Regions from separate parts of the Homo sapiens genome. Here region 1 is linked to region 2. The links come from fine-mapping of genetic effects on gene expression. A gene starts in region 2. The other region holds a variant in brackets. All regions are shown on one strand. Distances are from middle to middle. Region 1 overlaps PVT1 (Pvt1 oncogene). Region 2 holds the start of PVT1 (Pvt1 oncogene).

Region 1 (5,372 bases), 200 kb after region 2:
CAGCTTTTGGCATTTTGACAGCACATAGGACATGCTTGGAGAACGTTTTCTTGAGTTAACTGAATTCAGGACACTGACTTGGGGCTGGAAAGGCAAAGTGAGGAAGAAAGTATTCCCCTTTCAGAAGCTCCCCAGTCTGCCTTAAGAAACAAAGGCAGCCCTGTCATCTGCCCAGGACTTTACAGTTTATAAAGTGATTTCTCATCCTTTCTCCTTTCTTGTATTGCACAAATATCGAACGAGAACCTGCAGTGTGCCACTGTGCAGGGTGCCTAGAATAAAGGAGAAAAGCCACTGTGCTTTCTCTGAAGGAATCACAGGGAGTGAAGCTAGCTTCATGGATGCCAGAATTTCACAGATGAAGGGACTGGAGGCTTGGAGCAATTGCATTGCTTGAGATCCCCCCTGCTCATGGATGGTGGCTCCCAAATCAGGACATGAGTCTTCTGAATCCCTTAAACCTGCCCTGTGCCTGCCTGTTCTCCCAGCACATTCTCTGTACTCTCTTGTGCTGCTCCTCACCCCCTCTCCAACTGTCTCTCCTTCTCCACCATTGTCCTCTGCCCACTCCTAGTCCCTTCTTTCAGCTCTGTTTCTTCTGAAAATGAGGATCTTTCTCTCTACAGTGCCTCTTGTGGGACGGGTTCTGCTGATGGGGGCTGTGTTTGGGATCTCGCCTGGAAACACGATCTCTCCAACTTTCCCTGGGAGCAGAGCCTTGGGTCTCACTGAACCCACCTCCCCAGCACCTTGTGTGGTGACTGGCAGGAGGTAGCCATTCCCTCCTGTCCTCTCTGCCCTTGTCCACTTTCCTGTTATGAGTCAGTTGCTGAGATAGGCTATGAGGAGTTAACAGAGTGGATAAAAAAGAGCTTTGTCCTTCTTTAAAGCCTTCAAAATATACAGATGTATTAGTCAGGGCTTTCCAGAGAAACAGGACCAATAGAACATGAAGATAGATGCGTATCCATGTCTATATCAATATCTACCTTGATATTTATATCTATATCTAGGAGATTTATTTATTATAAGGTATTGGCTCATGCAATTATGGACCCAGAGGGGTCCTGTGATTTGCCACCTGCAGGCTGGAGACCTAGGAAACAGCTGTCGTGTCACAAAGGGCAGAGGGCTGGAGAACCTGTAGTGTAGATTCCAGTCCAGATTCGAAGGCCTGAGGACCAGGAATGCCAAGGGCAGGAGAAGATCGATGTCCCAGAACAAGCAATCAGGCAGAGATGAAATTCAACCTTCCTGTGCCTTTCTGTTCTATTCAGGCCTTCAGTGGGTTGAATGAGGCCCAACCCACATTGAAGAGGACCATCTGCTTTACTCAGTCTCCTGGTTGAAGTGATAATCTCATCTGGACATACTCAGAAATGCTGTTTAACCAGCTCTCTGGAAATCCTGTGGCCCAGTCAAGTTGACACACAAAATTAACCATCACACTGCAGAGACACAGTCTATCCCAATACCTGTATTTACTGGGTAACGTGCATCTCAGCTCACCAGGCTGGTTTGATTGACTTGGCCCAAAGCTGCCCTTTGAGTGTTGAGCCCCAGCTGACCCCTTTGATCCTTCACAGCCCCATCATTAAAACAAGGACCCTGAATCAAGTGACTGTAAGAGCCACTCTTGTCCTGTTCTGTCTGTATCCTGGCTTTGAGTGTTTATCTAAGCTAAGCCCAATTGACTGTTGTCATTCTTTGTCTCTTCCTTGCTCAGACATCAGTTAGGTATTTATTGAACACTCCTGTGTTCACAGCATCCGGCTCCTGGGATTAGAGACAGCTCTTGACTCCTGGTTTTGCTCTTTGAAACCTATTGGACTGCTTTTCTTTTAAGATACACCCCCCACATTATAGGAATCTATCCATTTCTTTGTTCATTTCTTTAATTGTGCATTATATCAGTCCGTCAGTCAGTTTTCCTCCTGAAATATGCTAAGTATTGAGAATTATAATAGATTCTATTAAGCACCGCTAATAAAGTACTATCCTTATAGTAGTAGTAGTGTTTGCGGTGATGGTCGTGTTAGTACTAGTAGTAATCAAGATGGCCATGAAGAGACTGCTTTTAATCTACCAGTAATCATGGTAAAAATAGTAATAGCTCAAATGTATTATTCATGGTGTTTCAAGCACTTTACATTATATGATGTCATTTACTCTTCACAACCTGCCAGGAAATGGAAATGATTACGTAATATACTCCAGTTTGCAAATGAAGGAATCTTCCTGCGGAACGTATGTGAAGCGCATATTGGTGCTCTGGGCTTTTGCATAATTTCAAATGTCCTTTTTTTTTTTAAACTTAAGGCTAATGTTTAGAAGCTTTTGCTAATGAGAGGACCATTTGCTAAATCGGTATAAGTGCTACACATTTGGGTATCTCCATCCCAACATACCTCTTATTGCCATTCCCCAAAGCAGACACCTTCTCCTCCCTCCCTCAAGGACCTCTGAGCTTGCACTCCAATTCCTCTCCCACACTCACCTTTCTCCTTTCTGTTCCTCTTGGGATCCAGGTTTATTTGAGGAGATAGGAAAAGCTCCTGATCCAGCAGGTTTTATTCTTAAATTTGTAACAAAGTAAATCACAGAACCTCCACCCAGCATCCAGGCCTCTGGTTCTCTCCCTCCTTCCCAGGTATAGGCCGGCTTTCAGAAACCCTGCACCACATAGACCCTGGGCCTGAATTGCTGTGAGTAATAATGACTCTGCTGGTAATTTGTGTCCTTCTGCTTGGAACTGTTTCCTTTTTAGTTTGGTCACCCTCCCAGAGCTGGTTTCAATGGGGGCATACCCATTATGGGATGCAGGGCATCCTGCATCCTGAGGAATTTTTTTTCCTCCAAAAATGAAACCTTGAAATGAGGACATTGTCCTGTCCACGGACTGCACAACAACACTGAGCCTCAAGGACTCATACTGGCATTTTTCTTCTTTTGCAGAGTGTGGGCACCCTGGCTTCAAGCTCACGAGAAACCAGGTCGGGATTTAAACAA[T/C]GTTGGGTTAAAGCAAAGTTTCATAAAGACAGAATCAAGAAAAAAAGAAAGAGAAACCAATCTAAGTGCCATCCTCCCTGAGTTGCATCTTACCTGAGTCTTCAGCCGCCGCCCCCTGCTGCTGTGGGAGGAAACGGGAAAGTGACTGGCCATGGGGACAGGGGTCGGGGGTGTGAGGGTTAGTGGTAGCAGGGAGGTAGCACTTCTGTGAAGCCGGAAAGGAGACCTGAACCTGGCTCTCTGCTTTGCTGCTTGCCAGCCCTCTGGCTGGGAAGAAGGCTCTTGGCTCTTGTGAGCCTCGGTTTCCTCTGCAGAGTGGCCTGTTCTGAGGACAGGCTGACATTGCTGTCCATCAGTCTTCCAGGACCCTGAGGATTTCAGCTCTACCCATGGGCACTGAACTGGAACATTCACTGGTCATTTGCTTTCGTTTTTTTTTTTTGTTTGTTTGTTTTTTGATACAGAGTTTCACTCTTGTTGCCTAGGGTGGAGTACAATGGCGTGATCTCAGCTCACCACAAGCTCTGCCTCCCGGGGTCAAGCGATTCTCCCCAGTAGCTGAGATTACAGGCATGCGCCACCACGTCCGGCTAATTTTGTATTTTTAGTAGTGATGGGGTTTCTCCGTGTTGGTCAGGCTGGTCTCGAACTCCTGACCTCAGGTGATCCGTCTGCCTCAGCCTCCCAAAGTGCTGGGATTACAGGAGTGAGCCACCGAGCCTGGCCGCTTCCGGTCTTTGGATTTGATTTTCCTCAAGTGTAATTGAAAGCAGGGGCCTGGATGGCCGCCATAGTCCCTCCCAGCTTCGACATTACACATTCCTGCCAATCCATTTTTCAGGCTGATAACATTGTTCAGAGTTTAATGGGAGCAGGGTAAGATAGTCACCGTGTGGAGCAAAAATTGAAGGAAATATTCCAGATGTCATGATTTTTTACCTGTAGCCCCTCTGCTGCCACACCCTTGTGCACATCCTCCAGACACTTTTAAAGAATAAACTCTATTTTCAGAAGAGTTTTAGATTTACAGGAGAATTGTGAAAACAGTTCAAAAAGTTCTCATATACCCTGCTCCCAGTTTTCCCTGTTACTAACGCTTTGCATTAGTGTGGCACATTTGCCACAATTAATGGACCAATATTGATACATTATTATTTACTGAAGTTGAAACATTACTTTAGTTTTTACCTGGTCCAGGATCCCATCTGGGATCCCACATCACATTTAGTGATCATGTCTTCTTAGATTGCCCTGGGCTGTGCCGCTTTCTCAGACTCTCCTGGTTTGTGATGACATTGACAGTCTTGAGTTTTGATGACCAGTTTTGACTGGTCAGGTATTTCATAGAACGTACCTCTGTGAGGGTTGTCTGATTCTTCTTCTTATTAGATTGGGATTATGGAGGAAGGCCACAGAGGTAAAGTTCCGCTTTTATGAAATCAAGGGTAGGCACCATCAGCATGACCTATCACTGATGTTGACTTTGATTACCTGGCTGCTGTAGTGGTTGTCAGGTTTGTCCACTTTAAAGATACTTTTGTGTTTTTGTTCTTTCTTAACTCCCTTTTTATATTAAACTCTTCAGAAGGAAGTCACTGTGCATAGCCATCCCCTAAGAAGAGGGCATTCCTGCTCTTCCTTCTCCATGGCTAGAGGATCTACATGAACTATTTAGATTTTTTCTACCTGGGAGATTTAACTCCTCTCTCCTATTTATTTATTTATATATCAGCATGGACTTGCAGGTATTTATTTGATAATTTTTAATTTATTTGAGTTATAATCCAATAATATGGTTTTATTTTGTTGCTCATGGTTTTTCTTCCTTGGCTATTGGGAACTCTTCAGTTACTTCCTGTGCCCATTTGACATACTTTCTTATTATGGGTCTTTCTTTCTTCCTTTTCTTTCCTTCTTTCTTTCTCTCTCTCTCTCTCTCTCTCTTCCTTCCTTCCCTTCCTCCCTCCCTCTTTTCTTTTCTTTTTTCTTTTCTTTCCTTCCTTCCTCCCTCCCTCACTCCCTCCTTCCTTCCTTTTTCTTCCTTTTTTCCTTCCTTCCTTCCCTCCCTTCCTCTTTTCTTTCTTCTTTCTTTCTTTCTTTCCTTCCTTTCTCCTTCCTTCCTTCCTTTTCTTCCTTTCTTTTCCTACCTTCCTTTTCCTTCCTTCCTTTCTTCCTTCCTTTCCTCCTTCCTCTTCTCCTCCTCCCCTTCCTTCCTTCCTTCCTTCCTTCCTTCCCTCCCTCCCTCTCTCTCTCTCTCTCTCTTTTTTTGGTGCATCCATACTTTCTGGCACTATAAGATGCTTAGGGCTTATCTTGTATATTTCCAGCCCCAGTTATAGAATCAGCCATTTCTTCAAGGATCC
Region 2 (5,372 bases):
TTAGATTTCTTAAAAATTGCAACTATGAGACATTAACATTGTAAAATATTTTTCCTATCTATTTGTCAATCCTGCATCCATCTATATATCTATATCAAGATCTATGCCTATATGTATCCATCTGTGCCCAAAAAGGCCTCATCTGATATTCAGAAAAATTATTTCTGGCTGATAAAATTTGTTTTTCTTCTCTATTTTTTTTTCTGCAGAGTTTTAATGTTTTACAACGTGTATGTATGTGTGTGTGTGTATATATATATATAATATCACTTTTGCAAGAAGAAAAGTGACTTTTAAAAAATGAAAGCAGGCCTGGGCACGGTGGCTCACGCCTGTAATCCCAGCACTTTGGGAAGCTGAAGCGGGTGGATCACGAGGTTAGGAGATCGAGACCATCCTGGCCAACATGGTGAAACCCCGTCTCTATTAAAATACAAAAAATTAGCAGGGCATGGTGGCGCACGCCTGTAGTCCCAGCTACATGGGAGGCTGAGGCAGGGGAATCGCTTAAACCCAGGAGGTGGAGGTTGCAGTGAGCCGAGATTGAGCTGCTGCATTCAAGCCCGGTAACACAGCAAGACTCCATTTAAAAACAAACAAACAAACAAACAAACAAACAAACAAAACAAAACAAAAGCAGATATACCAAAATGTTTATTTTGGATGGTAGGAATATTAAAATATTATTTTTTCTTTGTATTTTTACTGAAAAAATGTTTTAATTCTAAAAAAGAAATTAATAAAAAGGAAAATGTGAATCTAAGATTAGTGCATGAGAGCTGGAGACCCAGAGAGGGCAAACAGCATCAAGGTCAAAGTTGAGTGAGTCCTGGGTGAAAGTGTCTTTTCAGCCAGGGGAGATTTTCCATGCAGAAGGGACTGGGCATCAACTGTCAGGACATGGACAGAGACGTCTGCCATTAGAAGCTGGTCCTCTCATAGCCCACCAGCATCCCCCAGGAGGACACTGGCTTCCTCAAGGTCACAGCCTTTGGTTTCTGGAAAAAATGATTAAGCAGTGAAAGGATTAAGGTCTCACAGCTCCTATCGCATGATGTATAGATGCAGAGGTTTCTCATCATCTTCTTTTTATATTTTAAAAGATGGATGACAACTAGATGCCAACTGCAGCTCAGGCACCTGCCCAGTCCCTCTCAGAGCCGGGCACAAAACAGACACCTGTCTAGCCCCTCACAGAGAGCCAGGCACAAAACAGACACCTGTCCAGCCCCTCACAGAGAGCCAGGCACAAAGCGGAGACTTGTCCAGCTCCTGGCAAGGAGCCAGGCACAAAAGAGATGCCCATGAGTGTAAATGAATCTGTGAAACAGGCAGAACAGGAGCATCAACTGAGTAATTGTTTTTTCTTTTTCAAATAAGAACATTTGCGTTGAGAAGCCGCCACGGGAAGAGATGTGATGAAACACTACACAGAAAGAGGGAGGAGCCTCCGGGTAGGTTGGAGTGAGTAGGATGTAGGGTAGCCGGCAGGGGAGAAGAGGGGCAACCTTCTGTTCCGTAATATTGATACCACCCATTTGTGTGTCCAATTTTTGCTGGTTTGTGACGTCCTTCTAGGGTCCATGAGTAACCCCCACCCCATTGCCTAGCTGGGTGCCTGACTCCCCTTAAGTGCTCAGTAGACGTTGAACTGGACGGGCGCTGGCGTGGTGGCTCACGCCTGTAATCCCAGCAATTTGGGAGGCCGAAGCGAGTGGATCATCTCAGGTTCGGAGTTCGAGACCAGCCTGGCCAACATGGTGAAACCTTGTCTCTGCTAAAATTACAAAAATTAGCTGGGCGTGGTGGCGCGCGCCTGTGATCCCAGCTACTCCGGAGGCTGAGGCAGGAGAATCGCTTGAACCAGGCAGGCGGAGGTTGCAGTGAGCCATGATCGGGCCACTGCACTCCAGCCTGGGTGACAGAGTGAAACTTCATCTCTAAATAAATAAATAAATAAATAAATAAATAAATAAATAAAATAAACTTTGAACTGAACAGGGGCAGCTCTTACATCTGTCCAGTCTCGGGTTTATGCAGATAGAACAAGATAACCACATCCCACATGGGAGGCCAGTGTCCACTTGCTCCTTTGGAGGAACTACTGGGCATTTAAGGGACTCGTTGAACACACTCTGTAGGTCAACTCTGCCCGGAGTGGAGGGAGCTGCGCAGACCGCTGGCCCTCTGCACGGGTTTGCAACTCGGCTTCTGGAAACAGCGGGAGACGTCGAAGGAGGCGAGAAGGTGCGCGCGCCCTTCTCACCAGGCCGGCGGATGCTGGGTGGTACCCAAAGAGGCGCTCAGATCACTGGAGCTGGAGCTCAGTCGGCGGTCTTCTGCGGGAACTGCACCTATCCCGGAGCATCTCTGGCCCTCCTATTTCACTGAACTCGCCTTCCTCAGCAGGAAAGTGGGAAGACCGCTTGCTTCCAGGACGGTGTGGGGAAGGGTAAGAGGGCTCAGGGAAAGACCGTGGAAAGCTCGGCGCACAAGCGAGCTGGCATCACCGGGGATTCCCTCCGGCCCGGTGGGACTCCGGCGCGCTTGTAGCGAGGACCCCCAGCCCAGGGCAGAGCCTACCCTCCGCTCCCCCAGTCTGGGCCCTTGGCGGCCGCAGTCGCCCAAGCCCGCCCCGCCTCCGCGCGCGGCCCTCTCCGGCTCAGTGCCCTGCGCTGCCGGGAAGCAGGCTGAGGGGCGCACCGGGCGGCGGGCGGGGACCTGGGGAAGGCCGGGAGCGCCGGGACCGAGGACGCACGCGGCGGGCCGGGCCGCGCGCGCCTCCCCCCTCCCCCGAGGCCCGAGCGCGAGCCGCCGTGACGTCACGGGCAACCCGCCAGCCCCGCGCTCCTCCGGGCAGAGCGCGTGTGGCGGCCGAGCACATGGGCCCGCGGGCCGGGCGGGCTCGGGGCGGCCGGGACGAGGAGGGGCGACGACGAGCTGCGAGCAAAGATGTGCCCCGGGACCCCCGGCACCTTCCAGTGGATTTCCTTGCGGAAAGGATGTTGGCGGTCCCTGTGACCTGTGGAGACACGGCCAGATCTGCCCTCCAGTAAGTTCCAATTTTGTCCCCTGCGTTTCTGGAAACTCTCGAGACTTGGCCCTGAGTAGGGATGCGCTGTGAGTAGTCGGACGGAGGAAAGGGGCTTTCGGAATCCAATATGTGTGTGCTAGGCGTGCACTGTCCTCATCACCAGCCTCAAGACTGGTGGCGAGTTTGGGCGTTTGGGGAGGGTGAGGGGAGGGGGATGACACCGAATGGCCGGTGCATAGAGGCAATTCTGGATTTATGAACTTGATCAAAGGCATATTAACTAATTTCTAAAAATAGACCCCTCTGCAGTCAGAACAGATTTGGAGCCATGATGTGGTTTGGAGGCCCCTCTGGCGAAACTAGAGGTCTGTGAATGTGTGATCCTCCCTCCATCCTTTGACCATCACTCCCCGCTTCCTCTCACACCCCCTCAGGGCTGGGCGAAGGTGATTTCCAAAAACTCAGTAACTCCGTGTTTTGAGACTTTCTCAGTTTTTGCATCGCATGTGAGGGTTTGTTGGGTGCTCCTAAACCCTCATCATGGTCATTCTTCTTGGCTGGGCTGTTGATTTAATTAGGTTTGCCTTCTCTTGCTAACGTGCTCTTATTTATGCCAGTGTTTGTGGTTCTGGGTGTAGACTTTCAGGAAGCACAGCCATGAAGCTGCATGCGTCTGTGTGTGGATGCCTCATGCCTTTTCCTGGTGGTTTGCAGGCATGGAAGATTCTTCTGTTCATCTAAGCTCCTGACTTTAGGCCCTTCTAGAACATTAGAGAGGAGAAGAAATCACGTGCAAGGATTTAGGGACAAGAGGATGAGGTTTTGGTGTTTCCTTTCTGGTATTAGGTTTTCCAGAGAGAGGCTGTTAGCCTGTCTCTCGCCCACTCCACCACTGTGAATCCTGGCTACTGGGGCTAGTTCCTTGCTAGGAAAAAAAAACTCTAGAGAAATGTGTTTGTGTGTGGTGGGTGGGCGGGGGCCCTGAGGATGCAGGGACTGTGTCTGCTGTGTTGTCTGTTATAAGATGTTTCAGACCTATTTTGCATACTGGCAGCGACAAGTTGAGACTTGTTCAACTTGACACAGTCCTGTGGTCATAGCGAATCTTTCTAAAGCTCTGATCAGTCAAGAAGGGGGTTGTATCAATCCTCAGAACCCTGAGTGGAACTTTCTACAGGATTTATTAGGAGAAAAACCTTCCCGGAAGCTGCAGAAGGACAAATACAGAATCCGTGTCTGGGAGAAACCTCGTGGCCTGGTCTCCATTATTTGAGATGAGTTACATCTTGGAGGTGAGGACGTGCCTCGTGGTCTAAAGCTTCGGCACAAGGGCCCAACTGGAATTCCACTTACGGGTATGACTGTGGGGTATATGCTGTACCCATTGAATTCCCAGAGGGATTTGTTAAGTGGTTGTGTTGCTGTTTTGCCTGGTTAAGAGTGGCTTATTCTTGTTGCCTCATCTATCTTGAGTGCAGAATTTTTGCATAAACGGCTTCTCTTGAAAAATAGAAGTCCGTTTTTGTTTTGTTTTGTTTTTTTTCTGATTAACTTTCCTTTTCCTCTGTCTTAAACACCTTCCCCCGCCCCTCGCCACCTCCATGCTGTGTTTCTGTGGCTGGAGCTTTTCTGCACTGGAAAGGAGGAGTTCTCCCCTCTGTTCTGACATATCTGATCCCCACTAGTTTATATGATTGCTGGTCTGAAAACCTGGTGAATTCTCACTGCCCACATCAAATCAATTCCCTGTTCTTTAGTTGTTTTTTTTTTCCGCCTCCTGAGCGGTAGGCAGGCACTCTGGCTGGATTCTGGAGCCTGTGTTTGCCATGCCTGGGCCTTCTGCCTGCCCAAGATGGACACGTTTCTCTGGCAGCTTTGTCAAGAGATCTCCTGGACTATAAGACACCCTGTTCTTTCCTCCTGTTTGTGTGAGTGGCCCTGCATTTGGGCAGAGTATTGGCAGAATATCTGGGGGAAGTGGAAGACTTTGGATAGTTGCCGGTCCAGGTCGTCTGGAGAGGCAGTGGCAGGCCTGCTGATGGCTGCCCCTTTGCTATTTGTTTTATATCAGGTGGCCCTTCTGGATGTGTGGCCTTTTTATTTTGCATTTCCTTTCATAGTTGGCTGCAGACATAAGATTCTTCTTTTTCTCTTGTTTTGCTTTTTTTTTTTTTTTTTTGAGACAGAGTTTCACTCTTGTTGCCCAGGCTGGAGTAAAATGGCTGGATTTCAGCTCACTGCAACTTCCGCCTCCCAGGTTCAAGCGATTCTCCTGCCTCAGCCTCCCAAGTAGCTAGGATTACAGGCATGCATCACCACACCCAGCTAATTTTGTATT

The links. PIP is the estimated chance that this variant, and not a neighbour inherited with it, causes the effect.
Region 1: its variant is fine-mapped to the expression of PVT1 in whole blood (TOPMed, PIP 0.99).

The regions. Positions count from the first base shown.
Region 1 is chr8:127,993,606-127,998,977 of GRCh38, forward strand. The region is part of intron 4 of PVT1 (Pvt1 oncogene); the gene reads left to right. Among named protein-coding and RNA genes, the nearest start is that of MIR1206, 13 kb to the right of the region's middle. RefSeq lists an enhancer at 2,976-3,065. The variant T/C (reference allele first, on the strand shown) is at 3,010.
Region 2 is chr8:127,791,683-127,797,054 of GRCh38, forward strand. It overlaps PVT1 (Pvt1 oncogene), which reads left to right and starts at 2,842. Exons shown (of 9, transcript NR_190187.1): 1 at 2,842-3,052. It overlaps MIR1204 (microRNA 1204), which reads left to right and starts at 4,280; the gene lies at 4,280-4,346. RefSeq lists enhancers at 1,252-1,822, 2,965-3,534, 3,535-4,106, 3,828-3,877, 3,978-4,317 and silencers at 2,548-2,597, 2,618-2,677, 2,688-2,847.